2 separate regions of the Homo sapiens genome follow, and region 1 is linked to region 2. Evidence: fine-mapped expression QTL. Tissue or cell type: whole blood. Region 2 holds a variant in brackets; the other region holds the start of a gene. All regions are shown on one strand. Distances are from middle to middle.

The links. PIP is the estimated chance that this variant, and not a neighbour inherited with it, causes the effect.
Region 1: it holds the start of DOCK10, and the variant in region 2 is fine-mapped to the expression of DOCK10 in whole blood (TOPMed, PIP 0.94).

What each region holds. Positions count from the first base shown.
Region 1 is chr2:225,038,741-225,046,849 of GRCh38, reverse strand. DOCK10 (dedicator of cytokinesis 10) reads left to right here and starts at 4,382. Exons shown (of 56, transcript NM_014689.3): 1 at 4,382-4,598. The coding sequence starts at 4,476. RefSeq lists silencers at 3,986-4,355, 4,546-4,785 and an enhancer at 5,336-5,675.
Region 2 is chr2:224,826,729-224,834,728 of GRCh38, reverse strand. It overlaps DOCK10 (dedicator of cytokinesis 10), which reads left to right. Exons shown (of 56, transcript NM_014689.3): 26 at 466-579; 27 at 4,117-4,188. Among named protein-coding and RNA genes, the nearest start is that of CCDC195, 110 kb to the right of the region's middle. The variant G/A (reference allele first, on the strand shown) is at 3,045.

The DNA.
Region 1 (8,109 bases), 210 kb before region 2:
TGTACGGTGGGGGCAATATCACATGTCCCATGTGCATTTTAGAATGAATGATTGAGAATCAAATGAAATAATGAGTGTGCTTTGTAAATGGTGCAACACTAGACAAACTTGATATAGTTAAGCACTGGGACATGGTGATGCCCAGGCTGACACCCAGGGTACACTGGGCTTGGTATCACTTAGGAAGGGTGGCTCAATGCCATGGAATGGATGCAAGGAGTATTTGCCCCACCTCCTACAATCTCTGGGTATCAAGATCTAATTTAGTCATTTAGTGTGCAAATTTAGTTATTCGTCCAAGAGTCACACTCCTAGACTAATAACTAAATTTACACACTCTTATGTCTGTAGGTATTTTGGAAAATATAGTACAGTTTTCACATTTATACTTATTACTGCTATGAAAAAATTTCTGAAGTCTTTCCTTGCTGATAAGACATGGACACAGTCATGTAGAAGGATGACAGGAGAGGGCTATTGACAGTTGTGGTTTCTTAATTCTATAAAGCTTTGAATTGTACCAGGTCAAGTAATCAGTGCTTACTACATCTTATGAAAGTAAGTGATGCTTTAGTATGAATAAGAAGAGTATCAAATTTTAAAGAAGGAAGAAGGGAAGGAAGGGAGGAAGCAGTGAGGGAAGGAAAGAAAAGGACAAAGAGAGAAAGGAAGAAAGAAGAAGAGAGAAAAGGAGGTAAGTAAAGAGGGGAAGAGAAAGAGAAGGCTAGAAAATTCCATGTTATTGAGACCAATTTTTTCAATCTTATTTAAAAAGTCATAAAAATATGAAGTATAAAATGTTAACATGGGTCCATAGACGCTCCATCTCCAAAATCTTACTCTCACCCCCTACCCACTCACCCATGAGCACCAGTAATGTTTTTTAAGTCAGTTCCTCTGTATGAAATTGAGCTTTTTGGAGACAGAAACATTTTGCTCAGCTCTGTGCCCTCCTAGCATAGTGTGAGATCCTGTCCATAGTTGATATTCCATAAGTGTCTGTTGAGTGGGGTTATTTCTTCCTCAGTGAATGGCTTGTCTCGTGACAACTCAAATGAATTGGCAAATTCAAACACTGATAAAACTTGATTGCAGCCTCTGCATTCTATGTATTAGTACAATCTTGATTTGAGAACATTTAGCAAAATTTGCAACCACTGGTTTCTAAAATGTCTGTTCCATGCATTTGGGGAGCTCTTTTAATGATCCATCTACAATTTTAGACAGCGAGACATGGGATAGATGGGCTGAACAACCCCATTTTATAATATATTAAAATTCAAGTGAAATAATATATGTGAAACTATTATCCAAACTGTAGCACATTATGTTATAGTTACATATTGTTACACAATAGTGGGTTAATACTATAAGGATTACATTGTTATTGTTATTCTTGTTCATGAAATTCCATAGTCATTGATTTGGGTTAAGACATTGTCTCCAGAATGCTCATTAAATCCCCAGCCTTGGCTCCAAGATAATACCCATCCATCCTTCTTCTCGCAAAGGTTCATATGAGAATCAAATATATGAAAAGACATGGAAGTTTGTTTAATTCCTGAGTTATCTGCAAGTGTAGGAATAATAACAGGGTTCATATGAGAATCAAATATATGAAAAGACATGGAAGCTTGTTTAATTCCTGAGTTATCTGCAAGTGTAGGGATAATAACAGTTATTGAAGTCCATGTGCTAGTCACTTTTGAAGAAATTTACACTAATTTAAGTAACTCTCTCAGCAGCCCAGCCACACAACTACTATCTTGATTGCGTAGGTAAGAAACTGAGGCTTACGGAGTTGGGATTTGAACAAAGGTAATTGGACTTCAGAGCATGTATTTTAACCACTATTCTACAATATTACAAGCCCTTGAAGATTCTCTTATTAACTAGCTGTTCCAAGAAACTTAACATACTTCATGATATGTGCACAGATTTGCGTTTACCAAGCATCTGAGCCGAGTTTCTCCAGGGATCTGAGAGATGGGTGGCCAGCAGAGTCAAGGTCCCAAATCAGCAGACCTGAAGTTACATTTCTGTAGCAAAAAATAAGTGTATTTATGCTACAAGGGCAGGGGCAAGGGTCGACACTCAGCTCTCTCTCCTTGGTGCCCGAAGGAAGCTTAACTAAAACCTACATGATCATAAGGGCGGAGGAGAGTCTCTGAAGTATCATTATTGACATGCCCTGGGTGTGAGAGGTATGCTATCAACACTTAAACCTGCCTTCCTACTCGGTGTGACCCACGGAATTAACATCATACAGGGTATGGATTGGGCAAACAGGCATTTGTTCGTTAAACCCTCTCACACCAGTGCTCTGGGTGACCTCCTGAAGCTGGAAAAAGTACAATTAGGTGTATTAATTGTACGATTAACAAATTGTAAGTGACTTTCTGTTACTCGATATTGTTGGAGATTGGGTTGTGTGTGCTACTCAGTGTTTTGGATCAGCGAGTTGCCTTGTGCAGGGCACATTCTGATGTATTATCGATTACTATAGCCTTCCCTTTCAGCACACCTTTCTCTTCTCCTCTCTGACTTTCTCTGTGTCAGGCACACCCAGCTCTCTGACTGCACTAGCCCATCTGAGCCCTTTGTAAAGTCATCCATAAGCTGATATTTATTGAGTGCCTACGTGTGCCAGGCAGTGTTTTGAAACCAGAGACAAAGATTAGGTACCTCTTCTTGGGAAGCTCAAGTTAATTCAAATGTGCTTAATCGGTTCTCTCAGGGGAATATGCATTCAGAGACATCAAGTCTGGGTACACCTGGGAAAGGGTACGGTTGGAGGGAGCTGTTCCTACAGAGATCTTCATGTACCAACACAGAGGCAACCACCTACTTTGCTTACCCTGAAAGGTGGTGTTGCTCCCACACTGAGTACCAATATGAAAGCATACAATACAGGTACAGTTATTTGTTATGCAGGCTGTCTTGGAACTAGATGATGTTTCAAATGGCACTTCCCAAATCTGCCAGAGCCTCTTACCCTCTTACGCCTGTTATGATTTCTAGAATGTGCTGAAATGATCCCCAAACAGCATCTCTGGCTAATTGAATCCTGGCTAACAAAGAGCTGACTAAAGTGCATTTATCAATTGCTTAAGAATTCTTTATACCCAAATGTGACCTTGTGTTATAACTATCTATCATTGGCTTTAGAAAGTGGCAGGGTCATGGATCCATAAAAAGCTGTTAAGAAAAAACCAGACCACTTGGAAAGGCTGTCCCAGATCTCTCCAGACCAGTATCCAGGGGCCAGAACTTCTCTGCCCCCCATCCAGTCCAACACTGAATTGCAGAACCACCCTGGGTATGACCCAGGAAGAGACTTCTTAGAAGGCTTTCATCAGATACCTATCTAGAGGCAAAGTGCAGGCTAGATGGGTATGGGCAAGAGAAGAGCAGAGACAGCATAACTGTGAAATCCACCCCCGACCTGACCACCCTACATAGTAACCCTGCCAGTTGGTTCTTGCCTACTCATCCTAATGCCACCCAAAGTCTCTTACCCCCAGAACGCTGATTTATTGGTTTTGAGTTCGTGTTAGTAGCTTAAACTGTCTCCTTGATTTCTCTGTATTTGTTTATTTGTTCGCTTGGTTACTTGCTGTCTCCCACCCCTACCCCGAAAAAACCTATCAGCTCTACACAGCCTTAAAGTGTAGTTGCTAAGTTCCTCTCCGTATCCTCAGTTTCCAGAACAGTGTGAGCTGGCATATAGTAGGCGCTTAATAAATACTCATTGAAGGAGTGAATGAATGGGGAAGCTTATTCCAAGGCCCTGAACATGGACTTCTGGCAAGGGAGCCTTCCAAACGCTGGCTTGGGCGATGCTGCTGGGATCCCAGCCACCAGATCTTTAATAAGCCTCTGACCCCTTCCCGAGGGTGGAAGGGCGAACCGAGCTTGGCCCCCACCCACTAGCCGGACCCAGAAAATAGAAGTCTAAACGGCAAATGCATCCAGGGCTCCAACTCTCCCAGCAACCTCCAAATGAGGCTGACGGCCTTGGACAGGCGACGGCCTTGGACAGGCCCCGCCCGGAGCCCCTCGGCGGCCGCCCCCCGCCCTCCCCCGCAGCCTGCAGTTCCCCCGGGCGGCGTGGACAGCCCCGGCCGGCCAGCTGAGCCCGTGTGGGCGGCGCGGGCAGGAGCCGCCCCACACGCGTCCCGCGACGCCCGCTCCAGATGCGCCGCTGCAGGGCCCGGCCGCCAGCCGAGTTGGCCGCGCGCGCCCGGGGGAGCGCAGAGTTTGGAAAGTCTTCGAGAAGCTTCAGAGGAGGGAAGGGGGTGGGAAGAGTGGGGGTGCAAGAGAGAAAAACCCGCCTCTTGCGAGTTGAGCGAGGAAGAGGGGGGGGAAGGCTCCGAGTTCCGCTTCCTGAACGGCGGGTGGATAGAGAAGGTTGGCGCGGGGAAGACCGGCGGGAGGCGCGCCCCGGGCCCGCGGCGCGATTGGCGTGACCGGCGATGGCCGGTGAGCGGACCCGCAGGTTCACCCGGAGCCTGTTGAGACCTGGGCAGGCGGCCGAGCTCCGGCACAGCGCCGCGTCCGCCGCCGCGGTGGCAGTCAGCAGCCGGCAGCAGCAGCGGGTGAGTGCGGCGCGTCCTCCGCGCCTTCCCGCGCGCCCCAGGCGCCCGGGGGGAACGGAGCCCAGCTTCCCCAAAAGCTCGGCGGGCCCAGGTCCCCGCAGCTCACGGGTCCTCTCCTCCGCACTCCCTCCCCCGCCGCCTCTGCGGGCTCCCCCGGCGCCACCTCAGCGAGGCAGCGCCACCGACGCGTAAGGACCGGGGGCGCGTTTGTGCACGCGGGACGCTCAGAGGAGCAGCTGCGTGGGTAGCAGAAGCGCAGCGTGGGAGAGGATGTGCAGGGGCTTTAATGGGGCGCGAGGGGGCCGGAATGCACCGCCAGTCACACTGGTGCTAAGTGATACGAGTGCCAGAGACCCCGGGTGGGGTGGGGGGATCTACAGAACAGAACCCCTGAGTCCGGAGGTCTGCGCGTCCCTCTCACCCTCCAGTAAACAGACCAGTGCGCTGAGAGAGAGGGATGCAGTCCGTGGTCCTCGCCCTGGTTAGAGCTGGGGCCCCCCGACGTTAACTATCGCAGAAATAGATGTACTTGGAACAGCCCTCCCACCGCAGGGTAAAAACCCACAAACCACTTAATACTCCTCCAGAAAGGGCTGAGGAACACAGGCTGGAGGAGACGTGGGTCATTAGGTCTCCAGCGGTTTCTGATATTTTTCTAAGATGTTTCGCGGGGTTCTCCCACCAGCAATGCTTTACTGGTTACTTCCTTATTGAAACGGCTTCTAAGTGCTGGGTGATTTCCGCGGGAAGTCCCTGGGGCAGCAGCCAGCATCTGATGCTAGGATCCTATCCATACCAACCCAGATGTTCCTGCGTTGCAGTAGGTCCACACTGCCGGGGAGAGGTGGCAAGAGACAAATCAACTCTAGTGGAAACGGGAAGCGAGTGGGAACAACAGCCTCACAGCAAGACCGGGGCTCAGCAGCCGCGCTCTTGGCCTGCGTTTGGTGGACCGGAATCCGGGTTGTGTGTTTCATTTTCTTTTTTGCCAGAAAATATCATTAGGAACTAAACGGCTCTTTTTAAGAGTGTGAAAGTGTTACTCTTGCCAGTCACCAATGAGGAGGGCGCCAAAAGCTTCCCAGAGCCAGTTCCCACAGCCAGGACTATTCTCTAAAGCCAGAGGTCGGAAAGTTGAACAGAACGGAAGCAAATTGCCTGGCAGAGGGAAGAGGCATCGGGTGCCCAGGGGGTGTAGAGCGGGCGGGGGTGATTGGAGTGTGAAACGAATTGGTGGCCAGGGTGCCTTCTCTTGCACTTACACTAGCTGCAGTCCGCAGTTACCCAGAGGTGGTTCAACTGTTAGCTCACTCTGTGCCAGGGACAGCATGTGGTACTGCTATCAGCGTGCACATTTTCAGGACACCAAAGACAAACTGTTCAAAAGAACATTAGAAGAAAAGATTCAATTCGAGTAAAAGTAGAGATAAGAAAATCTCCACACAGTAGTAGAAAGTACTTTTTACTTTTGAATGATCATTCAGAATTGTGGTTTTGTCATTTTCTGCCATTCCCTTGACAAAAACTTTATTTTGCAATTGACTCATTGGACTGAATCTCACTGAGGATCTGATGGAAACACACAGCGTTCAATTGGAATAAACAGCTTAAACTGTTGTGTGTTTTTTTAAATGTAGATCCTCCTAGAATTTTTGTGGCACTAGAATTTCTATAAAGATTATGTATCCCAGATACCCTTCTACACCACACACACACACACACACACACACACACACACGCACTGCTTTCTCCAAAATTATGTCAGATTTGAAATCCTAGGGTATCTTGTCAAAATGAATAAGCTCGCTGTCTTTAAAAAGAGGTGGGGGAGGGGAGATTCAGTGGCAAAGGTGGTCCTGACTCCCCTTGCTTCGCTTCAGCACCTTGGCCAACACTCCTAAACTAGCTTTTGCCAAGACATTTCATGGGATCTTACACATCTAGGCAGGCAGTTTTGGCTGCTATTTTGGCAGCAAGAACGCATGTGCTTTGCATACTATCCCATCAGTTAACTCTTGAAGGGAAACAGGAAGGTGATGAGTTCTCTGAGCTGGCACCTGAACTCGGTGGGATTCTGTGGGTGTAGAGCATCCCTTCTGAACCTAAAACCGTGTCATTGGACTATGTGGTAGAGACTAATCTTAGCGTACATTGATGCAATCCCTTAAGACTCTTCATATCTGTTGCTTCAAGTTCTCAAAACATGGTTGTCAAGGGAGAAAAATGATAGGATGTTGGGGAAAATATTATGGATATCCGACTTCAGTACAGACTCATAGAACCGCGGGTGTGTATTGGAGCAAGCCATCCTCTATTGCAAGGTATTTGAAAGAGACTAGAAACTCCTGCTGAGAAAAAGTATCTTACTGCTAGATTTGTATATTCCCCTTTCTGAAATCCCTGTCTTGGGGACACAAATCCTCCAGGACATTGCCAAAAGATTGCCATAGGGTTTGAATTCTGCTCTCTCCAATAAGTTTAGGTAAGGTTGTCAGGTTAACAAGATAGTTTTCTTCCCTGAGAATGGGGTGTGTATACAGAGAGAGAGAGAGAGAGAGAGAGAGAAGACAGGAAGCCTTCAAAATGTGTTTGAATATGGAGAGGAGAGATCAAGGAGATGCTGAGTGAGGGTAATGACTGGGAAAGCCAAATTTTAAGGCAGTTGTTGAGGACAATACAGGTGTATGCCAAAGCAAATTTGATGTCAGTTTTTACCCAAAGCACTGTATGTAGTAGGCTTATGTACTTGCAGACTCCTAGACACGAACCACCTTATTCTTCACCCCTCCCAAGAACAGTAATGAACAAAAACATACATTTCAAAAGGAGAAATATTTGCTCCTTCATTATCCTAAAATTCCCCATAGAAAATAAATGAAAGACAACTCATTCGAAGATCAATTCAAAGGATCATGTCAAGTTCTCATAATTTCCTGAAATCTCATTCCTGATTGTTTCATAAAGCAAGCTTCTCTAGGGTAGAATTTCAGCCCGAAAATGATTAGAAACATTTGTCTCATATCAGAACTGGAGTGTTTTATTACATTGGTTGAATATACATACCATGTTGGCTTCAAAGTTGTAATGCCACTAATTAGAAATTCCTTTTTGATAAGAAGCTCATCTTTTAAAATGAATGAAGTGTATCTGTACCCTAGCATGAATTAGTTCATTTAGATAGCTTTCTATAATTCATTAAGATATACATTTAGGATTTGTGCACTTTTCTGCATATATATTGTATTTGAGAGCATTTCAAAAGAAAAGACTTTTTAAAAAAAGTATAGGTAAACTTTTTGCAAACACCCCATCAGATCTGTCACTTTGAGAGAAATGGAGTTTTATTTATGGAATGTTTTAGGTGGGTTAGTGCAATGGAAGGCTTCAGATAACCAGAAGGATGAGATCTACATAGAGTCAGATGATGGAAAGGAAGCATTTACTAGAGATCAAATAATCATTTGGTCAGTTTTAGCCCAAAGCCGTTCATCTATTTCCTAGACTGGAGCTT
Region 2 (8,000 bases):
TAAGCATGGGATCATAGACCCTGGGCTTGTGGGGAGCTCACGTACTGGCATCTGGAAGGCACTGGCTTCCCCACTTGGCTATTTGAGTGGGTGCTCTACCCTTTCAGGATGAAGAATTGCTACCATGCCACCTGTTACCAGTGGAGGAAGGAGAAGGGGAATGTGTCCTAAGTAGGTGGGTCAAAGCCCTCCATGTTTCCTTGAACGTGCTAAATGGCTCTCTGGCTCTTTCTCTTGATTTCTACAAAGAGTTTCAAGGAGAGCTTAGGTGAGCAAGGCCCTACTTCTGCAAAGCCCTAAATAGGAACAGGTGTGTACTGCTCTTATCATTGGGCCTGCATTTATCTCATGGCAAAATCTGGCATGAGCAGATAATTTAGAGACATAAGTTATTCACATGACATAGTTTTTGAAGCTTCATTTTTCAAAGTATTTAACTTTATTCACTTTTTGGATTTTCTTCAGTTCGTGTTCAAGACCAGGGCATGCAAGGAGAGGACTGTACATGAGGAACTGGCTAAAAATGTGACTGGTCTTTTGAAATCAAATGACTCAACAACAGTAAAGCATGTCCTAAAGGTAAGAATTTAAAGATGGTCCTTTAACTGTGAGTACTAGGCATGGGTCACGCTTACTCCTGGAAAATGATAGGAGTCATGGATTTTCATAGACTTTTTCTCTTGCAGTTTCCAGCATAAGGTTCATATTGAAACTTAGCATATAAAGATACTAAGCAAAAGAGATCTATATCGAGACAACATAGAAAAAAGTAGAGTGGGCCAGGTGCAGTGGCTCACCTCTGTAATCCCAGCATTTTAGGAGGCTGAGATGGGCAGATCACCTGAAGTCAGGAGTTCAAGACCAGCCTGGCCAACATGGTGAAACCCCATCTCTACTAAAAATACAAAAACAAAATTAGCCAGGAGTGGTGACAGATGCCTGTAATCCCAGCTACTCAGGAGGCAGAGGCAGGGGAATCGCTTGAACCCGGGAGGCAGAGGTTGCAGTGAGCCGAGATCATGCCATTGCACTCCAGCCTGGGCAACAAGACCAGAGAGAGAGAGAGAGAGAGATACATAGATAGATATTGTATGTTAGAAAAGAAGATGCATTAGAAAAATTGTAGAACAGGTAAGAATTGGGCATTGTGAGTGCTGAAGGTGCAGGGGAGATTTGAAGTTTTAAATAGAATGGTCAGGATATCTGATGGAGGAGGTAATTCTTGAGCAAAAAAAAAAAAAATTTGAAGGCGAAGAGGGTGCTGGCCATGGGGATGCTCAGAGGGAAAGACCTGTGTGAAGTCATCAGGCAGCAGCATGGCTGGTGTGTCTGCAGGAGACAGGGAGGACACTGTGGCAGGAGACAGGGAGGACACTGTGGCTGGAGCCAAGTGAGCAGAAAGAAAAAAAAAAGATGGACGATGAAGTCATGGAAGCCACTGGAGGCTTGGGAGTTAGCATAGGCCAGGCGTTCCCACTCAGAGCAGAACTGGGAGTTGTGTCGTTGGAGGGTTTTGCACAGAGGAGTAATGTTTTAAACCAAGCTGACCTTGGTTTAAAAGGATCCCTCTGATTGCTGTGTTGAGAATCGACTACAGTGGGATAAAAATGGAGACCACAACCACTTGAGGGGCTATCAGAGAAGCAGGATCCTCTGGGGAGAGTCACTGCTCAGTTAAAATATGGAGTGAAGGGAATGCTCGGAGAAGAATTGCATCTTCAAGAGATTGTGCTAACGATGGACCATGTGCTCTGGAAGGTGGGGTGGGTGGGTTTCAGGAGATTGGAAGCAGTGGAATGTGCAGATATATAAGGGAATATGTGGAGAGGGCAGTAGAGGAGTTGAGGCTTCATCTGTCATCAGACGTGAACAGGCAAAAGCTCAATTTCATTAGTGCTGGTGGTTTCAAGGAAAATAGTGGAGGCAGGCCAGAGTGCTAAGGGATGGAGAGGGGTAGGAGTCTGTTGAATTAAGAGACAAATGTTGGAACACTTGACACGATGGCTCAAAATATTTTGGACAAGATTAGGGAAAGAGGATTGCAGCAGTGTGCCTGGGATTCATTCATATTCCTAACAACATGTTTCACTTCTAATAGCCATTAGAATGCTATTGGAGTGCTAGAATAGTATTGGTAGCCATTTCCATTTCTTCTTACTAAGAAGTGACCACTTCATTAAGCCATAGCTGCCTTTGTAGAATATCAATCCCTTCTCTTTTTTATCTGAGTCAGTCTTCTGGAATTAGGACTGTCTTGTCAAAAGTTTATCGCAGCATTGTTTGTATGACTTAAAACAGGATATAATCCAAATGCCCATTGACAGTAGAGCAGATAAGTACATGGTGATTATATATGTCATGTGGTGACCATATGTGATCCCCCCAGCTACGTGCTTCAACATAAACGAACCACAGAACAGAATTTGTTGAATGAAAAAGGCAATCTCAGAAGAATACATAGAGGATAGTTCCATTCTTATGAAGTTCAGTGGCCAGATGAACTAAATATCCCTTCATTGTATAAGTATTCGTAGCAAAATTGTGAAGTAAAGCAAAGGAATGATTAGCACAAAATTTAAAACTGTTATCTGTGGTGGAAGGAGTAGGAAGCAGAGAGGATGCAAGGGGTGCGTTCTTGAAACTATACATATACAATATGACTTTTTGTAGCTGAGATAAGTGTCACCCTTAGGCCCAAGAAAGAAGGGTGCCCATCCTGGGATGAGCTTTGTTCTTCTCATACTGCACCTGTCCTCACAGGCCAAGGTTTAAGAGGAGCTAAGAGAACAAGCCCACCAGGAGCCCCTACCTCCCCTTCTAGACCTGTAAGGAACCCCAAGACCCTCTTGCTCAAGGTCCTATAGGTGGATTTCCAGGCCTGCTTCAATCTCTGTCCCAAGCCCTCCAGGACCTCCAGAGGACAGGTCTTGATGCCTGAGTGCAACCCTAGACCCCATTAAGGAGCTATTTGCGGCAGGGAGGAGGGCCAGGTTGTGGACAGCACTCAGATGTGCAGGCTGGACAGTTTCCAAAAGAGCTCAGGC[G/A]TACAAGGCCCTACCTCTGCAAAGCCCTAAGTAGGAACAGGTGTGTACTGCTCTTATCATTGGGCCTGCATTTATTTCATGACAAAATCTGGCATGAGCAGATAATTTTGAGATTGAGTTATTTAGGTGACATAAGTTTTGAAGCTTTGTTTTTTAAAGTATTTAACACATGCGCACCAGGCCCCTCAAGGGGCAGGACGGAGCCTTGGGCGAGAAGAAAAGGGGCAGGCCAGGCCCTGTGCCCCCCAGGACCTCACACCCTGGGGCAGCATTCCAAGGTGTTATGAAGTTTTGTTTCTCGAGGTAGGAGGATCAAACATATTTTATTTAACACATTTTCAGCTTGACTTCCAACTTCTAGATATCTAGACATATGACCTTCCATTTTCACCCTTACCTCTAACCTTTGAAATTTGAGGGGTGAGCTTGGTACAATAAAAAGTTTGTTTAGGTCAGGCTTGGTGGCTCTCAACTGTAATCCCAGGACTTTGGGAGGCTGAGGCGGGAGGATCACCTAAGCCCAGGAGTTCAAGACCAGCCTGGGCACCATGGTAAAACCCTGTCTCTACGAAAAAACACAAAAAGTTAGCTGGGCATGGTGACCACATCTGTAGTCGCAGCTGTCCGGGAGACTGAGGTGGGAGAATCACCTGAGCCGGAGAGTTCAAGACTGCAGTGAGCTGTGATTGCACCACTGCACTCCAGCCTGGCAACAGAGTGAGACTGTCTCAAAAAATAAATAAATAAATAAATAAATAAATAAAAGTTTGTTTAGTTTTGTTTAACTAGGTGAAACAACTAGAACATCCCTTGAATAAATATTTTGTAAAACAACTGCTTAGTCAGTCATGCCAAATAAACTTGTAACTTGTTTTAGTTTAAACATTTTTTGAGAGGATTGAGATAAAAATCATCCCACTATAATAGAGAATATTTTACTGCTCTAATTCATTTAGTTTCAAAGAATACATTTTAACATAACAATGTTATAGTATTACATATTGCAAAGAAAAAATTATCATTATTTTGCCATAGGATAATAAATGTCTCGTTGCCTTTTTTTTCCCAACAGCATTCCTGGTTCTTCTTTGCAATTATCCTAAAATCGATGGCACAGCACTTGATTGACACAAATAAAATCCAGGTAAGAACATAAGTAATATAATATTATAATATTTTTACAATATTATCCAACAATTACACTAATGATTATGCTGTCATGAGTTCCATTTTTATTTGCTTTATAAACCTTAGCAGTTTACAATAATTACTTTATAAGTAGAAGAAATGATTGTGTACACCAACCGGCACAGGCCCTTCAGAAGCAGATGCCAAGACAATATTGGAAGTGCAAAAGATGTATTGGAGGGAAATAACTATAAAGGATAAAAGGAACAGGAAAAAGAAATGGGAAAGTCTGATACCTGTAAATGAAAAGGGGGAAGGAAGGAGGATTGGCTAGGAAGAGTCTCACAGTGACAAGGTTTTAGCTGGGCTGATGGGAAGTCTGAGAGCAAAGAGTTGTCATTAGAGGAACCCTGCACTGGGAAGGCCATCGGCCTCCAGGACCTTTGCAAGCTAAGTCGTTGACTGGGAGCAGCCTGGGGGGAGGGTAGCCTTGGCATGAATGCTGGAGCATATTGCAAGATACAGCAACTCTTTATATTCTTCCCACTAGATTCTGTCTTGAAGGAACATTTGAGCGATGTGCATTCCTGGCTGCCACAGTCCAAGTTTGCATGACATATTGTACAAGTTCATGAATCTGCTTCCCTGCAGTTCCCATGGGCCTCCCCTCCTGAAAGGAAGCTTAGAAGAGGGACCCTGATGGAATTAATTACAGCCCCTTCCATGGCTTTTCAGGAGCCTATGTATTACTCATCATCTCCCATCCCAACTCTCCATTCTAGATCCCTCTCACTCTAACTAGCAGCTCCGAAGGTCTTGGTGACTCACCTGGTGATATGACCCAAACCCTCATTCTAGAGTGGTCTCAGCCTCTGGTCATCATACTCTACTCACACCAGAGTTGGTACCTATGGCCATTCACAGTTACAATGGAGTGAGGAAGACCAAGAAGCAGCCAGGTAGATCACCTGAGTTCCACACACATTTCTCTGAGCCCCCATTGTGGGTAAGGCCAAGGGAAGACCTCTGGCATTGCCCCTGCCCCACGTGGAGGGTAAATCATAACAATGCTGCATGAGGTGGGGTTGGTGGTGTACAGTTATATTATTTTGATTTACTCTTTTGGTGGGGAAGAAGCAGTGTCAGAAGCTCCCACCTGGCCTCCCCCACTAGGATACCTCCACAGACCAAGCACCCGTGCAAGCTTACTCCAAATGCCAGTTTTATTAATACAAATTATACATTTGGGACCAGTTACATGACTATTGGGGGGATCTTTGAACCCAGTGGATCTACTGTTAACAGAACTTTAGTCAGGACTCCACCTTTAATCCCTGTAAGTCCCCACTCTATCAGGGCAGACATGGTGATGCTTTTCATTTCTGGATATCAATGTCAACTCAGATTCTGTGTGCAACAGTCCTTGAACTATATGCCCTTCTTCTCAGTGTACAGTAGCCTGAGTAAATGGCTATAGGGCCCTTTGGAGAAGAATTGATAGACTCATTACAGTATGTATCTACTGCATTGTTGCAGTGGGGGCTTTCCTTTAGGGACCCCATCACCTCTTCAGTCAATGTGTACCAGATCTGAATTGTGACTCAGGTCCAGGAACAGACAAAGGAACCATGACTATTCATTGGAATGAACATCCCCATCTTCCAGTTGCCCATTCTTGCCTTCTTTGTTAATATGATGTACCACCATTGTTGGTTGCTCTCTGTTTTGTCCCTAGGAGTTCCAGTCATCATTAACCAGCTCTACAACTCCCTGAGAGTCGGTCCCTCTTGGCTTCCCCACCAGTCTTGTCATTTGTCATGATACTCACAGCCCCCTGGCTCCTGGAGATTAAGCACAGCACATGGCCTCTGTTGTTTTGGTGATCCCTGATCCCCATGGCTGCTCATGAGCCAAGACTGTGACTGCTCCTCCTGCCAACAGATGGGAAACACCCCTGACCTTCTTAATGATATTGGTCCCCAGCACCTTCTTAGTGGCCATGGTGCATGCTGTCTTCTGGGCCTGCCTGGGGAACTTGATACACTGGTGGATCTTCCAGTCTCAATTAATGTCCATTCCTGTATATCCACCTCCCTCCACCTCTTTATTTTTTCCTCTATCCTCTGCCAGGACAACCAGACATTTCGACTTTGCTTAAAGTAGGCCATCTCTAGATTCTCAGAGCAACCCTAGCAGTGAGTTGCTCATCCCGTGAGTCCTTATTTAATCCCATGTTCTGAAAAAGCACACCCATGTCAATGCATTCTAAGTTACCTGCCCTTACTTTCTGGCCCACATCCTCAATGTACAATTGCAGAGGTTCTGCCCTACCTCCTGGTGGTACATGATAGCTAATTTTTATAGCCTCTTTGGGTATATTCTCTTTCCTGCTTTATTAGGCCCAGCAAGCCCCCAGCTGGGTTAAGCTAGGATTTAACCTCCAGGTATTGCCCTGATCACCAGAAGGAGAGGCGGGACAACTCCTCAAGGGTTTGCCTGATTTCTAGCAGGGAGAGGCCTTTGCAATATCATCTTGCATGGGAGGAGTGCTGACACTTAATAGGGAGGAATTAAACTTCTGCTAGCACTAAGGCTTCAGGGAAGTGTGCAGAGCCACTTCCTCAGAGTCATCCATCCAGAGGTCCTCATCCATGCTTCTAGGCCCCAGGTCTATGTAACCATGGCCTTGATCTTAGTATGACAGAAATGGCTTGCTGGACCTTTAATCATCTGTGGAGTTCCATAACTCTTAACTCGCAAATCCTATTTTTGCTTTTCTGCTATTTCTGCTCTCCACTTCTGGAGATGAGAGCCTCCTACCTGGGAGGGAGAGAAAATCTAACACAAAGGTAAAAATGGTTCGTATCTCTCTGTTGTTAAGCTCTACTGGGGTCAGGAAACCTCACTGTTGCAATTCCTGCTCTGTCACTAACTTGTTAGCTGACGAAAACGACGCTTAACATCTCAGTGCCTGTTTTCTCATCTGTAAGAAGAGTGGATTGGACTAAAATTCTCTTCTAGTTCCTACCAGTATGCATCTGCTTGTATAGACAGGTCACAAAACACACCTGTGAGCAGCCTAAGAATAAATGAACTGATAATAGCCAGCATGATTGTGTCCAGCAGTTTATCTTCCCCGATTGAGGTTTGCTTTCCGTGACCCCTTTCAGTGGTAACCCTCACACCCTAGTTTTCTTTCAGGAGCCCTGCACCTTCCACTCTAACCATCTCTAATCATCACAGTGGGAAAAGACCTGATATCATCTTTTTTCTTTACTTTTTTTTTTTTTTTTTGAGACGGAGTTTCGCTCTGTCGCCCACACTGGAGTGCAGTGGCACGATCTCGGCTCACTGCAAGCTCCACCTCCTGGGTTGAAGTGGTTCTCCTGCCTCAGCCTCCCAAGCAGCTTGGATTACAGGTGCATGCCACCACACCCAGCTAATTTTTGCATTTTTAGTAGAGACGGGGTTTCACCATGTTGGCCAGACTGGTCTCCAACTCCTGACCTTAGGTGATCCACCCACCTCAGCCTCCCAAAGTGCTGGAATTACAGGCATGAGCCACCACGCATGGCCCATTTTTTTTTCCCCTTGATACACGGTCTCACTCCTGTTGCCCAGGCTGGAGTGCAGTGGCACAATCATAGCTCACTGCAGCCTCAACTTCCCCAACTTAGGTGATTCTCTCACCTCAGCATCCCTAGTAGCTGGGACTACAGGCATGGCCACCAAGCCCAGCTAATTTCATATAGATGATTGATAGATGATAGATAGATAGATAGATAGATAGATAGATAGATAGATAGATAGATAGATAATTATATATAT